Homo sapiens: one gene and its partners. The gene in region 2 interacts genetically with the main gene of each other region. Each region holds a gene or a part of one and is shown on either strand. Other genes may lie near its edges.

Region 1 (6,191 bases), on a different chromosome or scaffold from region 2:
AAAGGGGAACAGATGATCTTGCTTTAACAGCATGATTTGATATTGCCTTTGATCAAAAAGTAGTATATGTACCAGTGGTTTGCCATTTCAGAAGAGTAAGTTTTTCTTTTTCAAAGCTTGTTTAAATATAAAGTTCACAGTTCTACCTCAGTTTCTACCTCAAAAAAAATAAATAAATAAAAAGCTTTTTCTTTTGAGGTAGAAATCAGTTTCTTTCCAGTCTTCACTTTGGTCTGATTGATCTCCTGTGTATCTCTGGAACCCCTAGGCTCAAGCAGTCCTCCTGCATCGGCCTCCCAAAGTGCTGGGATTACGGGCCCCATTTTGCCTTTTTGTATGCTAATGAATTGACTAAGAATTTTGTCTTAGCTAGCTGGCTGCTCCTAGTAGCTTCAGGATGGGGGCTGGTTACCAGAAAGGTCAAGGAATTATTAGAAGGTTGGGACTTTCATCCCCACCCCCTAACTGCTTAGGGAGGTGAGAGAGGGGCTGAAGATTAAGTTGATCACCAGTGGCCAAAGGGTTTAATCAATTATGCCTATGTAGTGAAGCCTCCATAAAAACTCAAAATGACAGGGTTCATAAAGCTTCTGAAAGCTGAACATGTGGAGATTCCTTGAGGTGGTGTGCCCAGGAAGTACTTGGAAGTTCTGCATGGAAATTCCCTTCCCTTATAAATTACCCTATCCTATGTATCTGTTCATCTGTATCCTTTGTAATATCCTTTATAATAAATTGGTAAACGTGTTTCCCTGAGTTCTGTGAACCACTCTAGCAAATTAACCGAACCCAAGGAGGGGGGTCATGTAATCCCCAATTTATAGCTGGTCAGTCAGAAGTACAGATAAAAAAGCCTGGAGCTTGTAATTGGCATCAGAAGTGGTGGGCAGTCTTGTGGGATTGGGCCTTCAATCTGTGGGATATGACAGTATCTCTAGATAGTGTCAGAAATGAATTGGAGAACACTCATCTGATGTCTGCTGCAGAAGTGATTGTTTGCTTGGTGCATGGGGAGAAACTCATACACATTTTGTCACAGACATCTTCTGTGTTGATGGTTGTCGTGTGAGAGCAGAGGAAAAACGGTTTGAGTTTTTTCCACTCTCACAAGAGGGCAGGCGTAAATTCCTTCAGTCTGCCTCCCAGAGGCTCATGGATTAGGGTGGAATGAGAATTTTGTCTTTCAGACATAATCTGTGCTAGGCCCTTTTCCACTGGACTTTCGTGGGAAGAGTTATAATACATACTGCCTAATATGTGCTGGGTCTGTTCCACGTTTTCTTGTGCTCGTTTCATCTTTGTGGGATATTCTGGAATTTTCTTTCTGACTATGCTTGTCCTTATCTGGTGTTAAAATATTTTTTTTTATTTGTTTTCCCAAGGACATTTAAAGGAAAAGCCTTCCTTACCCTGTGCTAAAAGTAAAATTAACACAACTTTGGGGGGGAATATTCTGAATATAAAGACTAATCTGCTTTATAGTTATGAGCCTGTCCAGGATTTTTTTCCCCCACCTTTGAATGGGAAACCTAGTTAGAGGATAAGTTAGAGAATAAGAGCCCCATAGAAATTTGGTTGTTTTTAACCATTATATATTTTGTATTGTGTGAAAAGTGTTTATGTGTTTTATTATTTTTGTCATGCTTTCTCTGTTCTGCATGCTTCAGATGTGTTTCCTAACTTGATTGAGAACTATTCAGGAGCAATTGCTTCTTGCTTAAGAATGAGTTAGCATCTAAAGTGAACTTGTTAGGTGGAAACTGTGAATAGCTAAGATTACCTTTGAGAATCCCTTAAAAGGACATCAAGTTGGCATAACATGCTGTCTCTCAGCATGTCCTACACAGCCATGTTTTTCATCCTGACTTGGAATGTATCACAGTTTCTTTAGATGAACTCCCAGTGAAAAAGTTGCTCTGTGTTTGGTCACCACCTTGTATGTTTTTTAAAAAAAGAGAAAAAGTGTTAAAAACTAGAATCATGCAATGCAGCAAGATGCTCACATTTTGAGATGCATGTGGTGATTGAAACAGACTAAAAGAGCAAGATTCTTGTTGCCCATCCCCCATTCACTCTGGAGCAGATATTCAATACCTGAAATGGTAAGCAGAATCTCTAGTAATTATTGTTTTTGTCTGTCTCTGCCTTCCTTTTTTTGGCCTACAGTGTTTGGTAGATTCAAGAAAGTTAAATGTGCCTAGACTCTGCTGTATGAACCAATTGATGGTAATAAGGTTTAATACAAGTAAGAAATTAAATTATCTTTAGGATTTATCATGAAAAAATCACCCCCTTTTGAAATCGCATAATGGAGGATTATAAATATGTGTCGACGATGGTTATTTTCTGAGTTCTGATCTTGCTAATGTTAACAATATCACAACTCAATTTTTAAAAAAGGCACAATAAAATATAAATATTCTTATTCACTGTTTAATATTTATTCACTGTTCATTTTTCAAGGTGTGGTTTGTGGGTACAAGATTCTATTTTAAGTACTGAAATCTTAAATTCTAATTTTACTCCATTTACAACCTACTCCTTCATGTCAGTGTTTTTATCCCTTAATCTGCAGTATATCACTTTGACTATTTTTGTCCCTTTAATAATTCCCTAGTATCCATAATTGCCAGTAACTAAGTGCTGACTTTAAACTTATTAGGAAATATAGTTTGGCTGTTTTGGAGATCTTTTCATATTTTTATAACGAAAAAATACAGTAACTATCTTTTCCTAAAGTTGCTATCAAGCAGTCAGACCATCTTTAGAGTTTAGAAACACAGGTTTGGTTTAAGAAGAATAAACATTACAATTTTAAATGTAGTACTTCAGAATAGTGTGTACTGGAATTCTAGCTCACTGATTATTGGTTAATATCATCTTGCAAAAGGAAATATGCTACCATCAGTTTAGTTTTCTCCTTATTTGGAATGTAAAAAAGGACAGTTACATTTTTAAGACTTTCTTTTTACCTGTACGTATGTTTAATTAACAATTTAAAGATTTGTTCAGATAGCCACAGCCAGTACTTCTGACGAACAGAAGTAGGCTTTTAGGGTTTCAATCCTTTAGAAATTATATTTGTTCTGGGGCATTAAATATTTATTATTAACAGAATTTTTCATTTATATATTTGTCATTTAGTGGACCATATTAAATGTGGAGTAAAAATTAGTAAGGTAAAAATTGATATGTAGGCCAGTTTTTCTTAATCCTTATTCACTGTGATCTTACCAGAAATTTTAACTATGAATGTTATGATTCATCTTTAAGACCTCCTAGTTGAACATCTTTTCCTTTCATCTAGGCCTAAAGTTAAGCACTTAATAACCCTTATCATTTAGGCTTCATTGTCCCACTGCCTCTGTGTTACAAAACCTTAACCCTGGTTCACACCAACCTTTGTTCCTATGCCAGATTATTGCCACCTTAAATTGTTTGCAGTATGAGCTGAGCATTCATTGCTACCTGAAAAATATTTCTTCTATTATTGTGGGTGGTAAGTTCAGACTTTTGCCTCTGTGTTAGAAAAAATCCCACCTCATCACCTGTTTGAACAGTCTTAGCATATCTCAAATAAAATCAGAGTCATTTTGGTGGAACTCCCTTTTACCATGTTTTTCTCTCCTCATTCACCCTCTGCTTAACCATGTTATAACCATATGCACTTCCACTCATCCTTCCTTCCGTACTCCTTCATCTATCCAAGTCTCTCTAGACCTATGCTTTTGTTGTCATTCTCGCCTGCATTCTCAGAGACCCTACTCCATCAGTCACAGTCTTTCTCCTGATTGCTCAACTTTTCCTTCTCTCTTTGCTCTCCCCTGATTATGATAAAATCATGATCAACTCTATCCTTTATTTTCAGAAACTCTTAAACCACATTATTTCAGTATTTCCTACTTTTTCTCCTTTTCTTTCTCATTTTCTTGAAAGAATAGCATGTACCCATTTGTAGGGTTTTTTGTTTGTTTGTTTGTTTTTTCCCTATTTTCTCCCTTTGCGTTTATCCTTCAACTCACTGAGATTTAGCTTCTACCATTTTTGGAAACTAGGTGTGCTAGTCATCTAGGACCGCAGAGTGGCTGAGTACAGTGGACTGTATCATGTCATTTGAAACTTTCTTTTCTGTTGTCATATCACTTTTCCATATGACAACTGATTTGTGGATCACTTTCTTAGAACTCTGTTCTTAACTCTCTACTGTCTACTTCCAAGAGGCCTTTAGGGGTGGAGTGCATGAATGGGCATTCATGCAGCTTTTGAAATGGAGTACAAAATGTTGTTTATATGTATGTATGTCTGTTTTCTTAGGAAGAGGGTCCATGGGCTTATGTATATTTGACTTAGACAATATTATGTTCATCCATGGTTTTAACTATGATGAAGTGATAACATGAAATTCTGGATTTCCAGCCCAGACCTCTGATAGGAAATCCAAAACCATATGCCCCACTTGATAGCCCATAATTAAAGTTTTCCAAAACAGAATTATCATTCCTCTTCCTGATGCCCTCTATACATATAGACTCCTCCACTCTTCAACATTTCCTAAGCCAGAAATTTGAGTGTCCTGCTCCTTTCTCCTTCTTTAAATCCTATTCCACATTGATTCTGTCTTCCAAGTATACTGATCTCCTAAATCCATCCTTTTATGTGTTTCCCTGGCTTAATTCTATCCTCTCTGTCTTTCAGTTGGTTTATTGAAATAACTTCCCAACTGGTTTGCCTGTGTCCTGTTTGACCCCACCTTGACAGTTCACCACATGTAAATCTGAGTAATTTTTCTGTAACATGTTAGTATTTTTTCAGTGATTCTGATTATCAGAATGAAAAGTGCCTAATTTGAGACATGTTGTTTGGTCTCTGCTTACATTTTTAGGTCTTATTTCATCAGTTTCCAAATGCACATTCTGTAGGGGTTTTAAAAGTAATTAAGTCTGTTATTTTGGCTTTCCCCCTCATAGTTTACCTCTTGTAATAACCTTGTCTAGGTCCTTTAAGTCTCAGCTCAAGCTCAGCTTCCTTCTTTATATCTAGTGCCCTCCCACCCCTTTAGATGCTCCTTCCCTGTCTTCCTACAGTTATAGCTGCATAATTATTGCAACTATTTTTCTTTCTTCCCAACCATACTGTAAGCTCATCATTGAGGGCAAGTGCAATCATATCAAAATGTTTTTCTTTTTTTAATCTCTAGAGCCTCATAAAATATCTAATATATGGTGGGTGATCTATAAATATTTGCTTAGTGAATGAATAACATAATATTTAAAATTTGTTTTCTCAATTTGACCTTTATACATTTCAAATAAAACTTAAAGGGAATCTTTTTCCTGGTACAAAATACAATGAGTTGTTTTTTTTTTTTTTTTTTTTTTGAGACAGAGTCTTGCTCTGTTGCCAGGCTGGAATGCAATGGTGCGATCTCTGCTCACTGCAACCTCTGCCTCCCGGGTTGAAGTGATTCTCCTGCCTCAGCCTCCTTAGTAGCTGGGACTACAGGTGCGCACCACCACGCCCAACTAATTTCTGTATTTTTAGTAGAGACGGGGTTTCACCATGTTGGCCAGGATGGTCTCAATCTCTTGACCTCGTGATCCGCCTGCCTCGGCCTCCCAAAGTGCTGGGATTACAGGTGTGAGCCACCGCGCCCAGCCTAAAATGCAATGAGTTTTGAAGAACTGTAAACTTCATTAACATCCAGTGCCTAGCCCAGATCCTAGTAGATAGGAGAAACTCAAATATTTGTGTATAAATGATTTATAGGTAACAATGAACTAATGAGCTGTTACATTTTTAGTGTTGCTCATTCAACCTGGGGAAGAAAACACATCAAATAAAAATAGCAAATCTGGTAATGTGCTTTGCTTCATTCCCTTAACAAGCATAATTTCATGCTGATTATTTTGATAAGATCTCAGGGAGCTTTACTTGATGTGTTTCCAGGATTTGTTTCAAGATTTAGAGCTCTTTTTAGCAGTTTTTGTAGTGCTGGCTTGGTAGTGGCGTGTTCTGAGCATTTGTTTGCCTAAAAAGACTGTACCATCCCTTCATTTATGAAGCTTAGTTTTGCTGGATACTAAATTCTTGGCTGATAATTGTTTTGTTTAAGGAGGCTGAAGATAGGGCTCCAATCCCTTCTAGCTTGTAGAGTTTCTGCTGAGAAATCTGCTGTTAATGTGATAGGTTTT
Region 2 (6,191 bases):
TTGGCCAGGCTGCTCCTGAATTCCTGACCTCAAGTGACCCACCCACCTTGGCCTCCCAAAAGTTCTGGGATTACAGAAGTGAGCCACTGTGCCTGGCTCAGTACCCATACTTTTTTTTTTTTTTTTTGTATTTTTAGTAGAGACGGGGTTTCACCCTGTTAGCCAGGATGGTCTCGATCGCCTGGCCTCGTGACCCGCCCGCCTCAGCCTCCCAAAGTGCTGCGATTACAGACGCGGGCCACCTCGCCCAGCCCAGTACCCAGAATTTTGACCATCAAGTGGCACACTGAGCTAGGGGGACCCAACAAGACCCCTCACCCCTAAGGAAAGCCACCAGATGGGGGCAACTGCCCACTTTATTAGACAATAGGTGGCCCACAGGTCTCCTCAGGGCCCACCCTCACAGTAGACACACCACACAGGACAACAGAAGGAACCTGCTACCCAGTCCTCTGTCCCTGGGATTCTGGTCCTGGGACAGGTGGGAAAGAGGAAGGTGGGGGCTGGCCTCACAGAGGCCTCATAAATACAAGGTCACTGGCCAGGGATGCAAAGGAGCGCAGCAGCAGGGACTCGGGGAGGATGACCTGTCCTAGAGTGGCCCATGTCACGCAGCCTCCTGTGTGGGAGGGGGCCTCGGCTCGGCATCCAGGCGGCACAGGGGACTGTCATACACCATCTGCAGGTTCACCTTGTGGCCCACCAGCTCCCGGATATTGTTGATGCCATATTTGATCATCGTTGGGCTTGTGGGGGAGGGAACAGAGTTTATCATGAGGTCAGCACGTGCACCCTTCTGCTCAGATTTCCATGGCTCCCATCTTCTTCAGAGGAAAAGTTCAAGTTCTCCCCATGACCCACAGGGCCCTGCGCCAACTGCTCTATCACCTCTCACCCTCCGCCTTCAGCCACACCAGCCTCCTCACTCTTCTCCTAATACAAAAAGCACATTCCCACCTCTGGGCCTTTGAACTGACTGTGACCACTACCTGGGACACCCTTCCCCAGATACTCTCATGGTTTACCTCTTTATCTACCTCTAGATTTTGCTTAGGTGGCACTTCTTCCTCCATGATGCCTTCACTGACCACGTAGTTGCCTTAGCCCTCCCTATACCACTTACTGCCCTGGTACACACTTCTGTCTTCTTTTGCTGAGTGCATTTGTTTTTTTGAAACAGAGTCTCACTCTGTAACCTAGGGTGGAGTGCAGTGGCGTAATCTCAGCTCACTGCAACCTCCGCCTCCCAGGTTCAAGTGATTCTCATACCTCAGCCTCCTGAGTACCTAGGACTAGGACTACAGACGCACGCAACAGTGCCTGGCTAATTTTTGTAGTTTTAGTAGAGACGGGAGACAGAGTCACACTCTGTTGTCTAGACTAGAATAGAGTGCAGTGGCATGATCTTGGCTCACTGCAACCTCTGCCTCCTGGGTTCAAACGATTCTCCTGCCTCAGCCTCCTAAGTAGCTGGGATTACAGGCACCTGCTACCACGCCAGGCTAATTTTTATATTTTTAGTAGAGATGAGGTTTCGCCATGTTGGCCAGGCTGGCCTCGAACTCCTGTCCTCAGGTGATGCACCTGCTTCAGCCACCCACAGTGCTTGGATTACAGGCATGTGCCACCACGCCTGGCCTGTTTTTATTCTTTGTAGAGGCGGAGACTTGCTCTATTGCCCAGGCTGATCTCAAACTCCTGGCTCAGGCGATCCTCCTGCCTTGGCCTCCCACAGCACTGGGATGACAGGCATGAGCTACCACGCCTGGCCTGATGTACTTGTTGGTCTTGCTAGTTATCATCCTTCTCGCTCCACTGGGACCCCAGATTCAGAGGGAGGGACATAAGCTGTCATGTTCACAGCACGGGGCTGAGCATTCAGTTTGTACTCACGATGAAAGTTTTGTCCATTGGATGAATGAATGGGTGGTGCTGAAACCACGCAGGCCCCTATACCTGGAGAGTTATTTGAGGCAGCTGGACACCCCGAGTTTCCACTTGGGCACTTACCGCTCCAGGGAGAGGCCCCAGGCAATGACCGACACGTTCTCGGGAAGCCCCATGGGCAGCAGCATCTCTGGACGGAAGACCCCCGAGTTTCCGACCTCCACCCACTTCTTCAGGCCTGCAGAGGCAGGACAGAAAAGACGGGCAGTGCGTGTTGAGTTTCTGGGCACTGCTGGTACAGGTTCTGGGTCTAGGTGGTGAGCTTGGGAGGTGGGGTACAGGCATGGCAATGGGGGGACCCAGGCCAAACCATAGTAGCCTGAGACCTCCCTCCCACCCCAGTACCAGGGCCTACCCTGACCTTGGTGGTAGCTGAACACCTCCATGCTGGGCTCTGTGTATGGGTTGTAGGCTGGCTTGAAGCGGAGTTGCGTGATACCTGCAGGAAGTGGGGGGCGGGCAGGAGAGCAGGGGTTTGGAGGATAATGCTGGTGATCAACACACCTGCCCGCTGCCTCACCACCATGGCCCACCCCTGCCCCCCTGCTCACCCAGCTTGGTGAAGAACTCCCGCAGAACGCCCATGAGGTGGCCCAAGGTGAGACCATGATCCGCCACCACGCCCTCGATCTGGTGGAACTCAGCCAGGTGCGTGGCGTCCAGGGTCTCATTCCGGAATACGCGGTCGATGGAGAAGTACTTGACCGGAGTGAAGGGCTTCTAGGGGTGACAACCGAGCCAGGCCCAGGTATGGGTCAGAAGGTCCCTTTGACAGCACCCTCTCCCCACTGGGGCCCCCGCCTGGGCCAACCGCACCTTCTGGGCAAGGCGGTAGAGCGCACGGGCGCTGGCTGATGTGGTGTGGGTTCGCAGTAGGTTTTTCCGGGCCTCGTCCAGCTTCCAGTTATACTTGTACCTTCAGGAGGGAAGGTGGGAAGTCCATGCAATGGCCCAGGGGTCCCCAGCCTCCTTCCCTTCCATACCAGGTAAGTCCTGCCTCACCCCTGTGAGCCGTAGCCGCCCTGAGAGTGGGTCCGCTTGACCCGCTGGACATAGTCCATTGGGAGCTGCAGGGCCTCCGCTGGATCTGGGCAGGACAGAGCAACATCAGGTCAGTCAACGAGCATTTCCCACCCCTTTTTTTTTTTCAGACAGGGTCTCACTGTTGTCCAGGCTGGAGTGCGGTGGTGCAATCTGGGCTTACTGCAACCTCTGCCTCCCAGGTTCAAGTGATTCTCGTGCCTCAGTTTTCTCATTTGTGTGTGGCTTTTTTGGGTTCTTTTTTTTTGAGACAGAGTCTTGTTCAGTTGGCCCAGCTGAAGTACAATGGCTCAATCTTGGCTCACTGCAACCTCCACCTCCCAAGTTCAAGCAATTCTCCTGATTCAGCCTCCCAAGTAGCTGGGATTACAGGTGCCTGCCACCACACCCGGGAAATTTTTGTATTTTTAGTAGAGATGGGGTTTCGCCATGTTGGTCAGGGTGGTCTCGAACTCCTGATCTCAGGTGATCCACCCACCTCGGCCTCCCAGTGTTGGGATTACAGGCATGAGCCACTGCACCTGGGCTTTATTTATGTATGTACGTATGTATGTATGTATTTTGAGATGGAGTCTTGCTCTGTTGCCCAGGCTGGAGTGCAGTGGCATGATCTTGGCTCACTGCAACCTCCTCCTCCCAGGTTCAAGCAATTCTCCTGCCTCAGCCTCCCAAGTAGCTGGGATTACAGAAGTGCACCACCACACACAGCTAATTTTTTATATTTGGTAGACGTGGGGTTTCACCATGTTGGCCAGGCTGGTCTCGAACTCCTGACTTCAAGTGATCCGCCTGCCTGGGCCTCCCAAAGTGCTGGGATCATGCCACCGCGCCCGACCTTTTTATTTTTTCTTTTTTTTTGAGACGGAGTCTCGCTCTGTCGCCCAGGCTGGAGTGCAGTGGCGCGATCTCGGCTCACTGCAACCTCTGCCTCCCAGGTTCGAGTGATTCTCCTGCCTCAGCCTCCTGAATAGATGGGACTACAGGCACACGCCACCATGCCCAGCTAATTTTTGTATTTTTAGTAGAGATGGGATTTCACCATGTTGGCCAGGATGGTCTCGATCCACCCACCGTGGCCTCCCAAAGTGCTGGAATTACAGGCGTGAGCCACCGCGCCCGGCCTATTTTTTTTTTTTAAAGGGACAAAATTTTTTTTTTTTTTAGACGGAGTCTCGCTCAGTCACCCAGGCTGGAGTGCAGTGGCATGATCTCGGCTAACTGCCAGCTCCGCCTCCAGGGTTCACACCATTCTCCTGCCTCAGCCTCCCGAGTAGCTGGGACTACAGGCGCCCGCCACTATGCCTGGCTAATTGTTTTTGTATTTTTGGTAGAGACGGGGTTTCACTGTGTTATCCAGGATGGTCTTGATCTCCTGACCTCGCGATCCGCCCGTCTCAGCCTCCCAAAGTGCTGGGATTACAGGCGTGAGCCACCGCGCCCGGCCTAAAGAGACAAAGTCTTGCTCTGTTGCTTGGCCTGCAGTGCAGTGATGCAATCATAGCTCACTGCAGCCTCAAACTCCCAGGCTCAAGCAATCCTTCACCTCAGCCTCCCGAGTAGCTGCAACTACAGGCGTGCACTACTATGCCCAGCTAATTTTATTTGTACAGATGGGTCTTTCTATGTTGCTTAGGCTGTTCTCAAACTCCTGGGCTCAAGCGATCCTCCTCCCTTGCCCTCCCAAACAGTGGGATTATACCCACTGAGGCTGGCCAAGTTTCCTTCTTTGTAAAAAGGGGTAACAGTACTGCTTCCAGTAGTTGGCAGGAAGATTAGAATAGTGGCTAGTATGTGATGAGTGCTTAGTAAGTTTTGGGTGCTATGACAATAATGACAAGAATGATGTTGCTCCTCTGGCCAGGTAAGCCGGCACCCAATGACCTCAACTGCCCTCTTGGTCAGGAAGGCCACCCCATTGTGGGAAGTCATTCCATTTCAGACAGTGCTAAGGGCAATGAAAGAAAGAAATGGGACAGAAGAATGAACACTAGGGGAGAAGGGCTTCTGTAGAACTCGGGGTGAGCCCGGGAGTGTTAGGCTGGCCTGTCTCTGGTGACACGTGAGCAGAGATTTGAGGCTGCAGCCTGCCTTGAAGATCTGGGAGAAAACAGCTCTTGGCTAAAGACGGAACATAAGCAAAGGCCCTGAGGTGTGCACGGCCTGGAATGCCCAAAGAAGACATGGGGGCAGGCAGGGTGTGGGGGCTCATGCCTGTAATCCCAGCACTTTGGGAGGCTGAGGCAAAACTGTTTGAGATCAGGAGTTTGAGACCAGCCTGGGCAACATAGTGAGAACAAAACAAAACAAAAATTCATTAATTTTGGGCTAGGCGTGGTGCTCACGCCTGTAATCCTAGCACTTTGGGAGGCTGAGGCGGGAGTATCACTTGAGGTCAGGAGTTCCAGACCAGCCTGGCCAACATGGCAAACCCCATCTCTATTAAAAACACAAAAATTAGCCGAGCGTGGTGGCGGGTGCCTGTAATCCCAGCTACTCAGGAGGCTGAGGCAGGAGAATCGCTTGAACCCAGGAGGTGGAAATTGCAGTGAGCTGAGATCGTGCCACTGCACTCTAGCTTGGGCGACAGAATGAGACTGTCTCAAAAAAAAAAAAAAAAAAAAAAAAAAGCCAGGTGCGGTGGCTCACGCCTGTAATCCCAGCACTTTGGGAGGCCGAGGCAGACTGGAGTTTGAGACCACCCTGGCCAACATGGCAAAACTCCATCTCTACTAAAAATACAAAAATTAGCTGGGCATGGTGGTATGCACCTGTAATCCCAGCTACTCGGGAGGCTGAGGCAGGAGAATCGCTTGAACCTGGGAGGCAAAGTTTGCAGCGAGCCAAGATCATGCCACTGCACACTCCAGCTTGGGCGACAGAGTGAGACCCTGTCTCAAAAAAAAAAAAAAAAAAAAAAAAGACTGCAGGTGGCATAATGAGAACAGAGCTTGACACATCCAACAAGGATGGACTTTAATTTAACTCAATTAATTTTTTTAGAGGTAGATTCTTCCCTATGTTGCCTGAGCTGGATTTGAACTCCTGGGCTCATGCAATCCTCCTGCCTTGGCCTCCCAAATAGCCGGACTACAGGTGCACACCACCATGCCCAGTTCTAGACCTAATTTGATCAAATGGGATGCCCATCCTGTAAAGGCTCCGCCGTGGCCTGGTGTCTCTCATGTCTCAGGGAGGCCCTAGGG
Region 3 (6,191 bases), on a different chromosome or scaffold from region 2:
AACCTTTATACATTTGTAAATATTTTGTAGTTGCTATTGCTGTACTTTGTTCAATAGGCCAAATTTAGAAGTTAACTGACCTTATTTGATCAAAGGGAATGGTGAAAAATAACTTAGTGACAATTCACTGAGGTTTAGTGAATTCACTGAATTTACCAAACAACAGAAATATTCTAAATTGATGTGCTTATCCCCTACCATCCAAGTGATTTACTCTTAGAGACAAAGGCTGTACATATCTTTCATCTACATGAGTTAAGTCTTCAAGTATTTTATGAGTACAGAAGTAATAATTAACAACTACTGTATTACCTGTGTCCCAGGCACTGCTTCATGCTTTGTGTATTACGTAATCCTCAAAACAGTTCTACTAGTATTTTCCCCATTTTAACAGATGAGGAAGCTGAGACAGTGGTTAGGTAAGTTGCCAACAGTCATATAACTTAAAAATAGCAGAGCTGGGATTTGAACTCAGGCAGCCAGACTCCAGAAGCCATGCTCTAGAGATGACTGTCAAACAACTGCTGTGCTAAAACTAGTCCTGGTAGTCGAACTTCATAAGACTTCCAGGAGGTTCTACAGATCAAGTATCTAGATCTTTTATGAGATATAAATGACATCAACTAAATGATCTTGTTGATGTCCTAAGAGAAGTTCTGAGAAATTCATGATGTAGAAAATGATTTTACTAATAACTATACTCCCTCTTAAGCAGATATTAATGGTACAGAATACATTTACATCATAGTTAGTATACATGATTACTTAGTATTCCTTAATTTGATTCAATGAATATTTCAACTATGCTTCTCTTAGAAGTTGTCTTTAGGCTCTCAACAGGTTGTCAGATAATTATTTTAAAATCCAATTAAGGTGGTAGAAAACCTGTCAAAAAGTTAACAAAATTAAAAATTGTATCTAATGAGCTTTCCAGCTTTCTAGCTGTCATTTTCTAGTAGATTCATCAGGAATTCATTTACTAGGTATCACATCTGAAAGTTTAGGGTGGACCTAGATTTAAATAATGAATAATCACTTATCCACTCTGAAAGGGGGAAGTTAAAACGTTAATAGATACATCTAGTTCTGTTTTCTTTACAATTACATATTGCATATTTTGTCCAGAGTAACTAAATGGAGACAAGAGTCTTACCACTTTACATGTATAAATAAGAACATCATTTGTACACATACTTTATAACCTAGGACATCAGTGTACAATACTTGGGCTGTTTCAAAACAATTTGAATTAAGTAAGAATGAGTGTTCCAGTTCATTACATCCCTATACTGCTTATCATTTATTGCCTTCATTTGTTTACATGACCTGCCAGACTTCTGAAGGCATTTGAATTTGTAATTAATGATCTAGATTAGGGTTCTTAAACATTTTCTGTAGGGCCAGATAGTAAATATTTTAGGCTTTGCAGGGTAACAAGCAAAATCGTGGATATTATGTAGGTACTTACAGAACAAGCTAAAACAAATTGCCACACTTTTTTTTTTCTTTCAAACTGTATCCAGCTTTATTAAAGATACTTTCCATAAACAATCATGGTATTTCAGGCAGGACATGGGCAGACAGTCATTAACAGTATACAACTTTCAAACTCTCTTCTTCAATGGACTACCAAAAATCAGCCGCTATAAAACCCAATGAAGTCCTCATCTGATGCTCTGAACAGGGAAAGTTTAGAGGGTTAACATTTCACATTTAGCATGTTGTTTAACAACTTTTCACAAGCCAACCCTGACTTTCAGGAAGTGAAATGAAAATGGCAGAATTTATCCGAAGATCCATAATCTAGAAATGGAACCACTGCTCTTTTGACAGGTGCCATCTCAGTGGCATCACTGGAAAGTCCAGATTGCCAGACACACTGGTAACCAATGACCGGGGGTCAGGTCCCAACAGATGTCTGGGCTTAAGGGGATTAAGTCTATGCTGAAAGATGGAAAGGGAAAAGAAGACATAAAAACGAATTTGTTTTTCCATACCACAAGGCTTTTGTGCCAAGGTGGCCATGTGTGTCAAAGTCAGGAAATCCCTCCTCCTGGGAGCCAAGAGGAAGTCTCTCAAAACTAGAAGGGAAAGATGTTTTCCCCGTATCAATCCAGCTTCAGAGATATTCTATTAGTGACACATACCCCTTCCCCCAAAAACAACAATGAAGTGTTCTGTGTGCTAACAACATAGCTTAAAAAAAGTAAAACAAAATTCTGCATTTTTATAAAACTTGATAAAGAATATTTCAAACTGTACAGTCACCAGAAGTACAGTTATAAAAAATGCACACACTTCACTTGGGATCTCCAGCACCTTCCCGCTCCTTGCCAGCATCAGCTTTTCTCTTTTTCCCTTTGGGTACCTTCTCTCCCTTCTTTGCAGGGGCCTTTTTAGGCTTGGGCTCTGGCTTTGGAGGAGCAGGTTTAGCAGACAACCTCGCAGATCTTCTCTGTGATTCATCCTTCACCTTGGCTTTATCTCCTTTAGCATCCCCTTCAGTCTTTCTCTTGGGCATGGCGGCGGCGGCGGCGGCGGGATGTGGGCACCGGGTGTGGGACGCAGCAGCGCGCGGGCTTTGGTCGGTCCAGGGGTCGTTCTTGCCTCTTCTCCTTCACACTGCTCCCACGCTTTTTTAATTGACAAAATTCAAAATATAGCCCAATTTTTTGTAATGCCTTTTTTGGTGAGAATAACATTGCCTCTAATCAGGGTTCTAAGTAAGTGTTCCCTGTGATCAAAATCAGTTGTAAATGATTGCCTATTAATGGTTATCATTAACCATCATTAACCATTAATACTAATGGTAATAAGATTTTACACATTTCATCTTTAAAAATGTCTTCTCATACAGATAGGTATTGCCAAATACTGCTATCAATCCAGGAGCATATGAAATTAACTGAGCATATTCATCACTTGGAAAGCATTTGTAAAATTCTTTTACATTTCTTCCCTTGAAATTTGCCTTTTAGCATGTCATTATTTTAATCACTTCTTACTGAAAATTAGGTTGAATCACCTCAATTGCAGTTAAATAGATTTTGAAACAGGGAAATTTCCTTTGCACTTGCACCTAGGTCCCTAAAAATGCTGAACTCAGAAAATATACTCACTAAAATTTGTGGGAATGGAAATCTTGTTTCTTTCTCTTTGATAGTATGACAAATGTGTAAGGATATTGTCATCAAATATTGTGATTCAAATATCGATTGTCAAAATGACTGTACCATATCAAAGTTGTTTTGCCTTGTGTTTTAGGCCATTCTTGCATTGCTATAAAGAAATACTTGATACTGGGTAATTTATAAGAAAAGAGGTATAATTGGCTCACAGTTCTCCAGGCTATAGGAAGCATAGCACTGGCATCTGCTTCTGGGGAAGCCTCAGGAAGCTTTTACTCATGGTAGAAGGCAAAATAGGAGAAGGCACTTCACATGGCGAAGGCAGGAGCAAGAGAGTGTGGGGGGCGAGTGCCACATACTTTGAAACAACAAGATCTCATAACTCATTATCTTAAGGACACCACCAAGGGGATAGTGCTAAACCATTCACGAGGGCCACATATAAGGGCTCACACCTGTAACCTTCACACATTGGGAAGCCGAGATGGGAAGATCTCAAGCCTAGGAGTTCAAGGTTACATTGAGGTGTAACTGTGTCTCTACACTCCAGCCTGGGCAACAGAGCAAGACCCTGTCTCTAAGTAAAAATAAAAATAGAGTCAAAGAACCATCCAGAATCATTTCCTTTTTAAAGTGACTATTTATGTCGCTTTCAATGTCCTTAACTCTTTAAGCAACTGTTCTTGCCAAAGGCCAGTAATCTTAAGTTTATTTTCTCTGGATATATTCAGCTGCTGCATCCAAACATAATTAATTCACACCATCAATAAATGGCTTTGCTTGGCTAACAAATGATTGACTTAGAGACTTACTGTTGTTGCAGCCTCATTTTCATTTTGTGAAGAAATTCTGCTTTGTTATTTCCATTTTAAATTTTCTAATTTTTCTAACAGTTGCTTGCCTGTGAGTTGGGAATACTGTGATGAGTGGTTTGTCTGGTAATGTCAATGGTTATTCTTTTAGCTTAGCTATATAGATGCTTTGTCGTCTAATTCAACATCAAAATAATTCACACCCTACTGTACTTTAAAAATAACAACAAAGTCCACTTTTCTTGTTTTGCTATAATAGATATGCTCTGGTAATAAAAAATAAAATGTGGGTTCATGTGATATACATGGCACTCAAAATGCTGTCGTTACAACCACATCAGTGATTTGTGATGTGTCAAACAGCAGTGTGAAGTGATGACAGTCACATTCAGTGTGTGTTGCAACCACTCAACTCTGCTATTGTTCAAGAAAGCAGCTGCAGTCCTCACTTCAGCAGCACATATACTAAAAAACTGGAATGGTACAGAGAAGATCAGAATGGTCCCTGCGCAAGGATGACATGCAAATTCGTGAAGCGTTCCATATTAAAAACAAAAAACAGCTGCAGATGATATGTAAACAAATGAGCATGGTATGTTCCAATCAAACTTTATGAACTCTGAAACTCTTAATTTCATACAATTCTAATTTTTAAAACTGATACATAATAGATGTCATAAAATTTTCACGTCACAAAATGTTCTTTTGATTATTTTTCAACCAATGGAAAACGTAAGAACATTATTAGGCCACAGGCCATATGAAAACAGGTGGTGGGACAGATTTGGCCTGCAGGATGTAGTTTGCCTGCCCCGTTCTAAATAATTTCATTTTTTATTACTTTTATGGTGATAGTTAATTGGCAGTAAAGGAGTAGTTACGTAAAGGACAACTACAAAGTGGTGTTAATACCTTCCTAGTTAGTACTCAATCACCCTACTTTCAAAAATTATTTTCCCTGAGAGAAAATATTTATTCATATTTATCCAATAAAAATTAGATATATTTTGTTATAAAATAATTGTATGTTATAATTTAGATAACAGGGAATGTATTTGGTAGCCTTAGTTCAGTTAAAGTTTAATTGGTAATCCTCAATTTGTAAAATAAGGCAAAGTACAAGGGTTCAATAGTAAAAACCAAACCCTAAAATTTTATTAAATAATACAAATTCTATTTCACTACATGTAAGTCTGGTAGGGAGATGGAGAAAACATTTCCAATTAAGTGTTTGAAACAATTTGTGTTTTTTCGTCTGAAAAGGCTTCAGCCGTCCTCTGCCTTTTAAGAGGTGGATCTTCATGATTCTCTGTAATAAATCCAGAAAACCTATTTTAGGTAAGATATTAACAGTTGAAAATACTCTTAAAAAAACAAACAATATAGGCATTTTTAATCTAGTCAACTTAAACATGAAATAACATTCTTGCAGATTTACTATTTTAATGAAATAGCCTTCTATTAGACTGAACTAACACAGTAGCTTTCTATTAGACTGAACTAATACTGCATTAAAATTTGTAAAACTGGGAGGAATTAGTTACAATTGAATGGCAAGGTTTACATTTAATTTCCCAGAAACTGCTCACCTGGATTTCTGGTCTGGTTCTTGTAGAGGACAGAGGCAGGAATCTGAAACGTGATGCACAGCATTTCCTTGTTTGGGGCCACATTTCTTACCAGGTGAACTGAACTGCATGCCTCCAGAGAAATGCCTAACACAGCTCCAGCCCTTTGCCGAACATCCTCAGCAGGGTTAGCATCTTTGGAAAAGCTATAACAATGCACTATGGGAAGGAACTCACTGCTGCATGGCTGCCCATCTAAAAGCCACTTGAAAGCACTAAGAAACTCTATAGCTTTTGCTGGCAAGTTCATGACAACGTGCACAGAGGGTTTTCTTTCTTTTGACAGACCCAGCAGCTGCATTAACTCTTCTTTGACTGGTCCTTGGAGGAAGTCTTTCCCATCCAAGTTGAAGACTTTCACCTTTTGGTCCACTTTATTTAATTTACAGTTGTACAACAGCCATTTATGAGATTCAGGATTGAGATCATTGGCAAATACAGTGCAGTTTTTCTTTGCTACTGGAATGGCAAAGGGCCCAACCCCAGCAAAAACATCAAATAGGACATCCCCAGGTTTGAGAAGTTCTGTGATACGGCTGTGTTCTGTAGACAGACGAGGATTCCAATAGACTTTTGAAAAATCAAATTCATAGGTGTAGTTGTTTTCTCGAACCTGAAAAAAG
Region 4 (6,413 bases), on a different chromosome or scaffold from region 2:
TGACACACACTTCTATGGCAATTATAACATAGTTAACACTTGGCCTGTACCTATATGAACACTGATCCATTGGGGGCCACTGAATAAAAATTTCTTCAATCTCATTTGCTATTTTAGTTGAGGATTCTAATTTACAGAAGAGCTGGGCCTTTCCTTCTCCCATTCCTTTTATAACTTCCTATCCAGTTTCCTGCAGTTTGTTTTTCCTCCTATTTGAATTGTTCTTATAATCTTTAAACGTTTCTGTTTCCATTCACTTTATGCGTGCATGCTTCTCTATGACTTATCAAACGTAGCACTGGGTGTAAAGTGGTATTTTTCCAAGGTCAAAAAAAGTATACGAATTCATTTATTAGGATTAGGCTTAAACTGCTTTCATTGAGATTATTCAAAGGATTTTTGCCCTCATTAAAATTATATCAAGTAAATAAAAATATGACATCCATAAGTGTGTTTGTTCACCAATAAGGATTTAGGTTTATCCAACTTTTTGCTAATACATATTCAAGCATTGTCTTAAGTTAAAAATATGATTATCATTCCCAGTAGATGTGTAACAGAACACAATAGGGCTGTCAGTTTTTTAAGGATATTCAAAATTATGGAAAACAGGTTCAATTACAAAAAGCCAGCTAACAGCACAAAGGTCACCAAGGTATGATACAATTTTGAGTGGGACCTATGCAGTGGTACTTAGCCATTAAAAATGCCAACAAAAGGAATGGAGGATGAGTCACAGTAAGTATTCCCTTAACTGTGAAACTTAAATATGCATGTACACTGATTACATTCTATTTCAGGTGCTTGTATAACTGTAAAGATATTGTATTACGAAGAAACACAGCTGGAAGTCTGGGCTTCTGCATTGTAGGAGGTTATGAAGAATACAATGGAAACAAACCTTTTTTCATCAAATCCATTGTTGAAGGAACACCAGCATACAATGATGGAAGAATTAGGTAATAATAATGACTAATCAAAAATACTTGTATTAAATGTTGTTTCATAAATGCCAAAGCTTGGCCCCATTTGAGATAAGGCATGTATTTATTATACTTTGTGGGGATTAAAAGTATGTACGTAGCATTCAACTTCTGAGAAATCCAAAATAATTACACATATTCTTGGTCCCATACTACAACTCCCCATACTTTTAGCATTCCTTCTAACACAAGCTGAATGGATAGTGAGTTTGGAGAATGTAAATAAGAGGCAAGAAATATCTCAATTAGAAGTTAACATAATTAAAATGGTCAGATGTAGCAAAATCTAGCACCACTAAGATAAACTTGCATTAACTTCAGCAACGAATTAAAATACTAATCATATCTTGTTTTGTTTTTTTTTTTAGATGTGGTGATATTCTTCTTGCTGTCAATGGTAGAAGTACATCAGGAATGATACATGCTTGCTTGGCAAGACTGCTGAAAGAACTTAAAGGAAGAATTACTCTAACTATTGTTTCTTGGCCTGGCACTTTTTTATAGAATCAATGATGGGTCAGAGGAAAACAGAAAAATCACAAATAGGCTAAGAAGTTGAAACACTATATTTATCTTGTCAGTTTTTATATTTAAAGAAAGAATACATTGTAAAAATGTCAGGAAAAGTATGATCATCTAATGAAAGCCAGTTACACCTCAGAAAATATGATTCCAAAAAAATTAAAACTACTAGTTTTTTTTCAGTGTGGAGGATTTCTCATTACTCTACAACATTGTTTATATTTTTTCTATTCAATAAAAAGCCCTAAAACAACTAAAATGATTTGTATACCCCACTGAATTCAAGCTGATTTAAATTTAAAATTTGGTATATGCTGAAGTCTGCCAAGGGTACATTATGGCCATTTTTAATTTACAGCTAAAATATTTTTTAAAATGCATTGCTGAGAAACGTTGCTTTCATCAAACAAGAATAAATATTTTTCAGAAGTTATAGTTGTCTTTTAGTATGTGATACTAATTAAGATTACTTTTGTATTATCACTATTTAAAAGATCCTAGTAATTTATTCTTTCAAATACCATGTTATTTGTTACCATCACCGATGAATACCTCCTAGGCTTATCCCTAAAAATGCTCGCTCAGAGAATTAATTATAAACTTGTTTTGTTTTTAGTAAGAAATGGCTAAAGCTCTTTTTTTCCACAATCGTTAGTAACTGTATAAAAACTCATGCTGCTCCACCAGTGGGCCTTGGAAAATGCATCAAGAAGGCCAAACCAGCTTGACCCTGGCTCACAGACATGGTCATGAGGCGATTTAAATTTGTGCCACAATGAAGAGTGTGTGTACACATGCCTCCTAGAAACTACACTATGGGTAATTAATTAATTTATTTCATAGAGGCCACCCAGATGCCTTATAGGTTTTATTAATTTGGATATGAAAGTGTACCCCATTTGGTTTCACCAGGAACCCAAATTTAGAATATTGAAAAGCCATCAAAAAGTTGTGATATCAAAAATGTATGAGTCTCTTAATATACTAAGCAAGAGTGTCACAGCAGTAATGATAAAGACTAGTTTTAATCTCAAGCCTTAGAGGGGCCCTTTGTTGCCTTTTGTGATGCAGCCTCTTAAGAGAGTGGTGTTTGATTAACAAAAAAACTGTGGCCCAAGTGGAACCCTTGACCTTTTCTCAGATAATCTGTGTATGTACACAGCTAACACAGCTCTTTAGATTCCCTGTTAAGTGACTCATTCACATTCCTTTCTTGGATATAAAGTCATTGCTGTCTTTTTATTTTTGAAATAGTACAAGACAAAGATTTTTAACTTAACATGAAAAATTCACTCTTTTATTTTGGAAAAAAAGTTAACTTTTCATACTAACAAACAGAACAAGATTTAAGGTAAATTTCTTAAACATTATCCAGAAAAATAACAAGATTTATAGTATCTACTTCTGGTACTAATATACACAAAAGGCCAAAACCATGCCTATTCTGCAGGTGTAGCTTCGGTGCTCTCCTGTTCAGGGGCAGGCTCACTGCCCGCTTCTTTTCCTTCTTTGCTTCTTTTAGATTTTTTGTGTTTGTGTCTCCTGTGACTATCTCCTTCTTCACTTTCATGGCGACGTCTACTATTACTGGAAAAAAAAAAAAAAAAAAAAGGTGTGTTCTGTTTAAATACACAATCAGTGACAAAAATCCAATCACTCTAAGGAAATTCTCAATATAACACTGGGTTTAAAATAATCTAATGCATTTTCTCATAAATATAATGTGAGGAATAATCAGTTTTATGTGACTTTTATGCAGGGATTGTATTTATTTTATAGGGCCATCTTCACTGATATTATCTCAGATTCCCAGTGCCTATACACAGCTTCTGAAATGCATATTATAATATACAGTAACAAATTAGAAACAGGCATTAACTCAAAACCGGAAATACTGTATAGGGTTGATTTTTGGCAAACAATAGGTATTTTGTTTAATGCTTTTTTAAAAAAATTTGAGACAAGGCCCTGAATTTTTCTTTAATGAAACCAAGCAAGACTGGTTCATAGGCCAAAATTTCCCCTCTTCCAATGCGACAATGTAGTAAGTCAAAATCTCTCACATACTATTGGTTCACTATTTTATTAAAGAGCAAACCTTCGAGAAGACTTATGTCTGGTTTCCTCTTTCTCCCTGTGTCGTCTTTCTCTATGTCGTTCTTCTTTTTCTCGACTTGCTCTGTGACGCTCATAACCTCTTTCTGCATATTCCCTGTATCTGTATCGTTCTTCATCGCTGAAATTGAAATAGAAATGTTTTCTTGACAACTGGACCATTAATTCTGAATGGATTCAAACTGTAAAAGAGATGTGATCTGCAGTCCAAATCCAAAATCCTCACATTAGCATCTTTTATAACATTAGTGAGGAAGAAATATTCGTTGAATTGAGAGGAAAATAATGCTTGTTCTCAAAATAGCACTAGAGCTAAGAATATAAATATATAATAATTACACATGTTAAATGACCAATTTTGTTCTGTGCTTTCATAGCTGTTAAAAAGATTTAATATAACAATGCTTTGGTTTTTTCATTTCTTGAAAAAGTGAGATCTGCAACTGATTTAAATTGTTATCAGCTTTTAAAATTTTTGCTCCTTTTAGAATTAAAATAGTATTTGTATATCTCAGATTTCTAATCAATATTCTTGGAAAGTCTTGGACATACGTTTAACATTATAAAAATACACGACTCACAATTACTACAAAACAGAAAGCAAATAAGTTTTTAAACTTTAGGTTTATTACTAAATATTCATCAAATAGAGAAGTATAAAAATAAAGAACAGAGACATCAAAGCAACTTCTACAGCATCCATACAAAATGCAGATTGGACATACCTGCATTCTGACATCCTAATTACATCTGTGTGGGCAGGGGGGCTACATGGCTAATAATTTCAACTGCATAAATAGAAGCTGCATCTCCATTTTCTGATTTTGGATTGAATTACACAGACTGGTGAAACTGAGACTAATGGCTAGAGTTAGAGGGTGGTCTTTCTTTACCTCCCTAGACTTCTTTTCCTTTCATGTCCTTTAACTGACATTCTCTTTCCATCTTTCTCTTTATCCTTCAAGTCTCTTATTTCTTCCTTTTTCTTTTTTTATGTTTAGCATAGAAGTCAACACTTTCTACAACTTAACATCAGTAAATTCACTTAGAATAAAATAATCTTTTAGAAGAATATGCTGAAGAGCTTTGATTTCTAGAAGTGTTTAATATGAATTATGAAAGTAGTAATTTGTATGAAACATCAAGATGGTAAGGAATCTCAGGGTTTAACATAGTCAGGTGACAACTATAAGCCATGTTTTAAAAGACATGTCAGCCTGTGTTCTAGCAAAAGTAATGATTCATTAATGCTATGCTTAATGCCCAATTGTACTGCTGACCAAGTTATTATCTGTGATACATTAAAATTTTAGAATCTTATTTAAAAAAACAGAAAATGTATTAATATACACATTTGCACATATTTGTATATGTATTTCCACTATTTTTTTCTACCCATAAATATGTACTTTTGTATTTGGAGTGTGGAGGCATGTCACCTGAAAAGTAACATGCCATGCCAGTCAGTAGAGAGGAGCAGAAAGAGTACAAGTGGAGTACACACAGGATCACATCCTGATTTTGCCACTTACTAAATGAGTGACCGAGGCTATTACCTATTACCTCTCTAAACCTCGGTTTTCTCACCTGTAAAATTGCCAACAGTCTTTTTCAAGACTTCTTACAGAACTGACAACATTTATAAAGTGCTTGGTATGAGAGTAGGCACTCAATAAATGACAGTCCTTGGTGAATTTAATGCTTAATTTTTTCAGAAGCAGAACTTTTTAGTATCATGTCTTCAAGTAGAATAAACTAGCACCATAGGAAATAAATATAGTTAACTTCTCTCAAAAAATGAGGCTTTTCAATGACTCCAACTAGATTTACATAAAAATAGTTAAAGTCAATTATCTCATAATGTGTCATTTGTTAACTCTTTTTCCTCTTACCCTAAAACCAGCTCTTGTTGAACCTGGAGCCTTTAGATTCTGAAAGCAGCCCTGTGATGGGAACCTTATAACAGATGGTAGAAGATTGGGTCCTACACACAAAATATAAAGACCCTCCTCCTTCCATCCCCTTTTCTGATAAGTGGCTGAACCACAAAGGTTTCTCTGGACCTGGAAATTATTAGAGTTCATTTCAAACATCCTAGAATGACCAGCCTTCTTTCTGGCCCATAATTAAGCTCCCTAAAAAACAGAAGTTGAAACTGGCCTGTAATTTTCAAAACAATGGCCCTGTAATTTGTAAAGCAACATATACTACATGCCATACTGCTAAAATACCAGCCTTCAGAAACCTTTACTTATACTTCACTTGGATTTTCCAGAGTGTAATTTTTTCCTGGGATAATTCAGAACAACTCAAAATTCCTCCACTTTTTGCCTCTGTGGCCTTAAACATTTTAGTCAAATTTAGGTAAACATTGACTCCTAATGCCCTACAGTTCAGCAACCTGAATATCAAATGTGGTTTAAACATTAACACTTTTTAAGTTTCAATAAAAACTCAGTAATATCTGTGCATGTATTTGAAGCAGAAGAATTAGAGGATTTAGCCAAATCTTCTATAAACAATGTGTTATTTATGCAAAGAAAATTTATGAGTCCTGCTTGGCAAAGCAATTTATTTTACTCTTATTTCCTATCAAGTTTTGCATTAAGTTCCTTACTTATAAACATGTACATTCTAGAGACAGCAATGCTATCTCACATATATTCATTTCCACATTAGAAACAATTTGACTTTCTGGAAAGTAATGCCCTTGAACTTAGAAGAATCATGCACTTAATTGGCTAAAGTCAACAGCACATTTCCAATTGGCTAAAGTCAACAGCACATTTCCCA
Region 5 (5,937 bases), on a different chromosome or scaffold from region 2:
GGAGGCCGAGGTGGGAGGATCACTTGAGCCCAGGAGTTCAAGACCAGCCTGGGAAACATAGACCGCATATCTATAAAAAAAATTAAAAATTAGCCAGGCATGGTGGTACATACCTATAGTCCCAGCTACTTGCGAGGCTGAGGCATGAGAACTGCTTGAGCCTGGGGGGCAGAGGTTGCAGTGAGCCAAGACAGTGCCACTGCACTCCAGCCTGTGCGACAGACTCCATCTCAAAAAAAAAAAAAAAAAATTAGCTGGGCGTGGTAGTGTGTGCCTTAGTCCCAGCTATGCAGGAGGCTGAGGCAGGAGGATCCTTTAGGCTAGGAGGTTGAGGCTACAGTGAGCTATGATCACACCACTGCACCCCAGCCTGGGTGACAGAGCACAGACTTTGTTTAAAATAAATAAAAATATATATATATATTTTTTAATTTTTTATTTTTTGAGAGTCTCCCTCTGTCGCCCAGGCTGGAATGCAGTGGCATGATCTCAGCTCACTGCAACCTCCGCCTCCTGGGTTCAAGCAATTCTCCTGCCTCAGCCTCCTGAGTAGCTGGAATTACAGGCGTGTGCCACCACACCCGGCTAATTTTTTTTCTATTTTTAGTAGAGACGGGGTTTCACCATATTGGTCAGGCTGGTCTCAAACTCCTGACCTTGTGATCTGCCCACCTCGGCCTCCCAAAGTGCTGGGATTACAGGTGTGAGCCACCGCACCTGGCTGAAAAAAAAAAAAACTTTAAAAAAAATTATAAAGGGAATAGATGTTCCTTGTAAAATAATATTTAAACCGTATAATATAAAGTCTCAAGGTAAGGTTACTTGTAGAGTGGATTTTATGCATGTACACTGAGAGGAAAACGCCAGCAGGGTGTTTAGGACAGCAGAGACTCAGGAGACAGCATAACTGATGCAGGGAGGTGCTGGCAGGAGGGAGGGAGCCAGAACTTCCTGCCTCACGGCCTTGACTCTCTGTAAAGATGTCAGGCTTCTGTTGAGAGTGATCGGGGAGTAGAGGAAGGTATAGTAGTTGCTACAAGGAACTGACTTGCAGGGCTGAGCAGAGTCACTGAAGGCAGCTGACCAATGGGAAACTACTGTTTGGTGGTGATTCAACTCCTGGCGAGACAGGTCTGAGACAAGTTTGGATTTTGATCCTGGTTCTGCCTCTTCATTAGCTAAATATCCTTGGCCAAATAACCTAAACTTGCTGAACCTCAGAAGTCCACATGAAAAAACTGAAAAGGTTGAGTATCATTCCATGCTTGGGGTTCAGCTGTGTGAGTGCAGAGTAAAAGTTATTGGCAAGAAGGTGGTTTAAATAAGGTCTTCGTTCATTAGAAATGGAAACCTGGCTCCTGGGCCTGTAATCCCAGCACGTTAGGAGGCCCAGACAGGTGGAAACAGAGACATAGAGAACTCAACAAGGAAGGTTCTCCTTCAGGCCAGGGACTCCTCCCCTCTCTCACACTCAAAACCATCAATATTTGAAGCAAAAAAGGAAAAAAAGTTGCCAAGCTTTATTTAGGCTGTAATGGTTACAGATAACACACATCTAACCCTATATTCCGTGCTTCCCATGCAGTCCCCTAAGCAGACTCAGCTACCCTTTCCCTCCAGTCTCACTTCTTGTCTTCCTCCTTCTTGTCCTTCTTGCCGTCCTTGGTGGCCTGGGAGGCCAGGGAGCCCATAGCATTTCGAATGGCTTCATTGTTGGGATCCACACCTGGGAGGTTCTCTAGGACACTCTGAAGGAACTCGGGGTCCTGCATCACGTCGTAATCATCCTCCTCCTGCAAACAGGCAGTGTGAGCTCAAGGGAGGGTATGGAGCGGCAGGAAGTAAGCAGGTGTTAAGGACAGGAGCATGCCGCTGCCAGAGGCCCCCTGCCTTCTGACTGTGTGGGGATCTGGGCACCTCTGGTCGACGTAAGGAAAGGACAAGTCAGCAAAATCCTTTATACAGCATGAATGCAGTTATTACTAACCAAATAGAGGGGCCTGCTGAGAACTCTGTTAATTGAGCTCTGAGGAGAAAAACAGATGCCATCACATTGAGGTTTCCTGCTCTCAAGACACCCAGTTCTCCTTTTTCTTTTTCCCAGACCCGCTTTTTTCCCTCCTGGGAAGACATCCTAGAGAACTGCCCAGGCTGCTCCCACCAGCAAGAAAGGAAAATTACAGAACAAGAGGACATTTCTCCAACTCTGACCATTAGCATTGCTACCTTAGCAAGGTTTACATGTAAGAAATGCAAATCCATGTGTTTCCCTCTGCTCCTCAAAGGACTTAGCTATGGTAGAAATACTCCCAGCCCCAGAGGGATGAGGATCTAAATTCAAGGACTTTAAACCTGATGGGGGCAGGGTTGGGTCTCACCTTGGCTGGCTCAGATGTGTCCATAGCTGAGCTGGCATCAATGTCTGCTGATTCCGCCTGGCCAAACTCTGAGGAAGAGAGGTCAGTCTGTTCAGTTACACTTCCTCACCCCAACCTCTGCCTAGGCACCACCCAGGCTCTGGCTCACCTGCTCCCTGCAGGGACATCTGCATGGCATAAGCAATCTGCTCTTCCTCAGTCATACTGCTTAGGTCAGGAAGCCCAGTGCGGCCAAACTCTTGCTGGCTGATGGTCATCTTCAGCAGGGCATCGTCTGAGTCTGGGAAAAGGAAAAGAGGAGCAGGGTAGAATTGGTGCCATATCCACACAGGCCAGCCTCCAAGGCCATTCCTAGCCCAGCCCTCCCACATATTCCTACCCTGTCAGACCTCCACACTCTCCCTGCAGTGCCTACACCCAGCTTTCAATGTTTAGCATCCCGCAGTCCCAGGACTTCGGATTCCACCTCTTTCACCTTCAGTCCCAGTCGTAGCAATCCCGGCCTCAGCAGCAGAAGCTGCAGCTGCCCGCCGGGCCTCCTCCTCCTGCCGCTGCCGCTGCTCTTCCATAGATACACGAAGGGCCTGGTGAAGGGCAGGGCATAATCAGGGCTCCCCTGCCCTCACTCCTACAGGGAGCTGGGAAAGTCAGTTGGGGTGTGGGAAAGGAACATAAAGGGGCAGCTTCTGGTTTATCACACAGAGAAGAAGCTGGAGGGATAAGCAGTGGTACGGGATTAAAAAGTAAGGACTTGGGAGAAGCCTCGGTTTTCATCAGAAGTGAACAAGAAAGCATCTGACACTGGTGCCCCTAGAGATCAGACAGCATTATAGGGAAGAGGCGGCAAAAGGAGGTCTTGGAAAATGAGTGATTGGTAGTGTCTAGGACTATCCAGCCTGATAGAAGCTCTGTGATGTGTGTGCCAGAAGAGAACAAAGAGGGACCTTTGGACTCTACCTGGGGTCAACATTTGCTCACCAAGGCCAGCTCAGGATCAGCACTGGGATCTACTCCAAATTCAAAGTCACTGGCACCAAGACCCAGCATGGCACCACCTTCACCAGCCAAAATCGGAGAACTGATGAGAGCATCAGCCAAACTGGGCCCAGGAGGCACTGTCACCAGATGAGAACCGGTTCCATCTTTGCCATTCAACGTGTTTACAAAGGCTGTCAGCTTTTCTGTGTTCACCTCCTGGGGAGGAAAGAACACATGATGCCCTTCTTCAGGCCTTGCTCCCTGTTCTTTCCCATTTCTGCACTACTCTGCCACAGTACCCGCACTCCTCAGGGTTAAGGACCATTCTGTTTATGACCAAATTAAGTCAATGCCCTCCAATCAGTCCCTACTCACCTCTTCCCCAAAATTGATAATGTCAACATTTACTTTCTCCTTCTTGAGGCGTTTAGCCAGTTTCACCAGCTGGGAAGAAGGGGAGAAAAATCAAGAAATCTGTTCCATACTCGAGGGGGGGAAAGGACCCGCCGCATAAAAGCATACAGAAATCTATTGACCTCCCCAAGGTCCTCCAACAGAATCACTGAATTCTCCACATTCACCTTTCCCCAAAGTGATGAGCCTGATGCCTCTGCCAGGTTCTCCTGAGGGCTGGAAGACCTCAGTCCCAAACATGGGCTCCCCACATTCCCCAGCTGCCACTTGGACTCACATCCTTCTCATTGTCCTCCACTGGGCTTCCCACAAAGGCAATGATGCGCATCTTGTGATTCTTGCCTTGTCGGTGCTTCAGAGCCAGCTTGTAAAGGGAGAGGAAGTTCTCAGAGTTAACCAGAGGAATCACTCAGCTCTTTCCTCTGTCACTCGGTTCCCTTTTTCTTACAGTTTCTTTGTACCTGAAGTACACCATCTACCATCACGTTCACACAAGATTTAACACCCCCACCTCCTCCCTTTTTGCTATGACTCTCTGTGCATAAAGAAGGGAGGTTAATTCTCTTTCTCTCTTTTTTTTTTTTTGAGATGGAGTCTCGCTCTGTCGCCCAGTCTGGAGTGCAGTGGCGTGATCTCAGTTCACTGCAACCTCCACCTCCCGGGTTCCAGCGATTATCCTGCCTCAGCCTTCCTAGTACTGGCTAATTTTTATATTTTCAGTAGAGATGGGGTTTCACCACGTTGGCCAGATTGGTCTCGAACTCGTGACGTCAGGTGATCTGCCCGTGTTAGCCTCCCAAAGTGCTGGGATTACAGGTGTGAGCCACCGCGCCCGGCCTTTTTTTTTTTTTTTTTAGAGAAACAGGGTCTCCCTATGTGCCCAGGCTGGTCTTGAACTGCTAGCCTTCAGCAATCCTCCTCCCCTGGCCTCCCAAAGTGATGGGATTACAGGCATGAACTACCACGCCCAGCCTTAATTCTCAATTCTAGGGATTTTTCCCTTCACAACCCTCAACTACCCTGGGATTCATCCCCCATATCCTTTCTACTCCAAGTTAGCTTTCTCTTGCTCTGGTCCTAGCTCAGGATTCCAGGGGAGAAATGAGTATGATGGAGGCAGGACCTCAGAGCAGGGAGGAAAGGTCCAGGGAACCCAGTAGGACTCACATGGGCCACGCGGATGCCCGTGCAGAAGGTGATCTTGCCCTTGGGTTGGACAGTATGTAGCTTGGACAGGATACGGCCAGTGTCTGGGGTGAGTGTGGTCAGCACTTCACAGTCACTGGGATGTAGGAAAAGCATTTCAGTGAATTCAGGTCAGCACAAGTACCTCTAAACTGTGTCTAACTTTTATTTATTTATTTTTTAGACGGAGTCTCACTCTGTCACCCAGGCTGGAGTGCGTGGCGTGATCTCGGGTCACTGCAAGCTCCGCCTCCCGGGTTCACGCCATTCTCCTGCCTCAGACTCCCAAGTAGCTGGGACTACGGGCACCCACTACCACGCCTGGCTAATTTTTTGTATTTTTTTTAGTAGAGACGGGGTTTCACTGTGTTAGCCAGGATGGTCTCGATCTCCTGACCTCGTAATCCGCCCACCTTGGCCTTCCAAAGTGCTGGGATTACAGGCGTGAGCCACCGCACCTGGCCTGTGTCTGACTTTTCTTTAAAGACCTGGATAATAACCATTATTTCTATTCTAATTGTAATCTCTATTCTTCTTTTTTATTTTTTGAGACAGAGTCTCGCTCTGTCACCCAGGCTGGCGTGCAGTGGCGAATCTCAGCTCACTGCAACCTCCGCCTCCCGGGTTCAAGTAATTCTCGTGCATCAGCCTCCTGAGTAGCTGGGATTACAGATCTACACCACCACGCCCGGCTAATTTTTGTATTTTTAGTAGAGACGGGGTTTTGCCATGTTGGTCAGGCTGGTCTCGAAATCCTGACCTCAAGTGATCCGTCTGCCTTGGCCTCCCAGAATGCAGGGATTACAGGCGTGAGCCACTGTGCTTGGCCTCTATTCTTCTCAATCAAACATCTAGTATTTAATGGAAACCAAGCACAGAAATAATTAAGTGGCTGGCTTTGTAAGAAAGCTGCCCTCTACTTCCAAATATTTTCCCCTAACTCCTTTTAAAGGCTCACAGGGCCCTGAGAATCCACCAAAAT

What was found.
Region 1: changes in FARSA (region 2) and ASCC3 together harm fitness less than expected from each alone (positive genetic interaction), as found in Homo sapiens cells (one large-scale study listed by BioGRID).
Region 3: changes in FARSA (region 2) and TRMT5 together harm fitness more than expected from each alone (negative genetic interaction), as found in Homo sapiens cells (one large-scale study listed by BioGRID).
Region 4: changes in FARSA (region 2) and FIP1L1 together harm fitness more than expected from each alone (negative genetic interaction), as found in Homo sapiens cells (one large-scale study listed by BioGRID).
Region 5: changes in FARSA (region 2) and PSMD4 together harm fitness less than expected from each alone (positive genetic interaction), as found in Homo sapiens cells (one large-scale study listed by BioGRID).

Annotation. Positions count from the first base shown.
Region 1 is NC_000006.12:100,873,652-100,879,842, reverse strand, and holds part of ASCC3 (activating signal cointegrator 1 complex subunit 3), read left to right. Parts: intron 1-6,191. UniProt on the Homo sapiens protein: ATPase involved both in DNA repair and rescue of stalled ribosomes. 3'-5' DNA helicase involved in repair of alkylated DNA: promotes DNA unwinding to generate single-stranded substrate needed for ALKBH3, enabling ALKBH3 to process alkylated N3-methylcytosine (3mC) within double-stranded regions.
Region 2 is NC_000019.10:12,922,141-12,928,331, forward strand, and holds the end of FARSA (phenylalanine--tRNA ligase alpha subunit), read right to left. Parts: intron 3,035-6,191; coding exon 2,950-3,034; intron 2,864-2,949; coding exon 2,764-2,863; intron 2,668-2,763; coding exon 2,499-2,667; intron 2,387-2,498; coding exon 2,309-2,386; intron 2,126-2,308; coding exon 2,011-2,125; intron 747-2,010; coding exon 608-746; 3' UTR 339-607; downstream 1-338.
Region 3 is NC_000014.9:60,969,946-60,976,136, forward strand, and holds the end of TRMT5 (tRNA (guanine(37)-N(1))-methyltransferase), read right to left. Parts: intron 6,182-6,191; coding exon 5,530-6,181; intron 5,250-5,529; coding exon 5,164-5,249; 3' UTR 1,496-5,163; downstream 1-1,495. UniProt on the Homo sapiens protein: Involved in mitochondrial tRNA methylation. Specifically methylates the N1 position of guanosine-37 in various tRNAs. Methylation is not dependent on the nature of the nucleoside 5' of the target nucleoside.
Region 4 is NC_000004.12:53,455,981-53,462,393, reverse strand, and holds the end of FIP1L1 (pre-mRNA 3'-end-processing factor FIP1), read right to left. Parts: intron 3,742-6,413; coding exon 3,604-3,741; intron 3,094-3,603; exon of another isoform or gene 3,093-3,093; coding exon 2,945-3,092; coding exon of another isoform or gene 2,866-2,944; 3' UTR 1,532-2,865; downstream 1-1,531. Other genes in the region: LNX1 (E3 ubiquitin-protein ligase LNX), read left to right, coding at 801-959, 1,352-1,487.
Region 5 is NC_000001.11:151,263,029-151,268,965, reverse strand, and holds the end of PSMD4 (26S proteasome non-ATPase regulatory subunit 4), read right to left. Parts: intron 5,053-5,937; coding exon 4,938-5,052; intron 4,135-4,937; coding exon 4,048-4,134; intron 3,801-4,047; coding exon 3,732-3,800; intron 3,573-3,731; coding exon 3,357-3,572; intron 2,963-3,356; coding exon 2,854-2,962; coding exon of another isoform or gene 2,845-2,853; intron 2,659-2,844; coding exon 2,527-2,658; intron 2,447-2,526; coding exon 2,379-2,446; intron 1,794-2,378; coding exon 1,623-1,793; 3' UTR 1,487-1,622; downstream 1-1,486. UniProt on the Homo sapiens protein: Component of the 26S proteasome, a multiprotein complex involved in the ATP-dependent degradation of ubiquitinated proteins.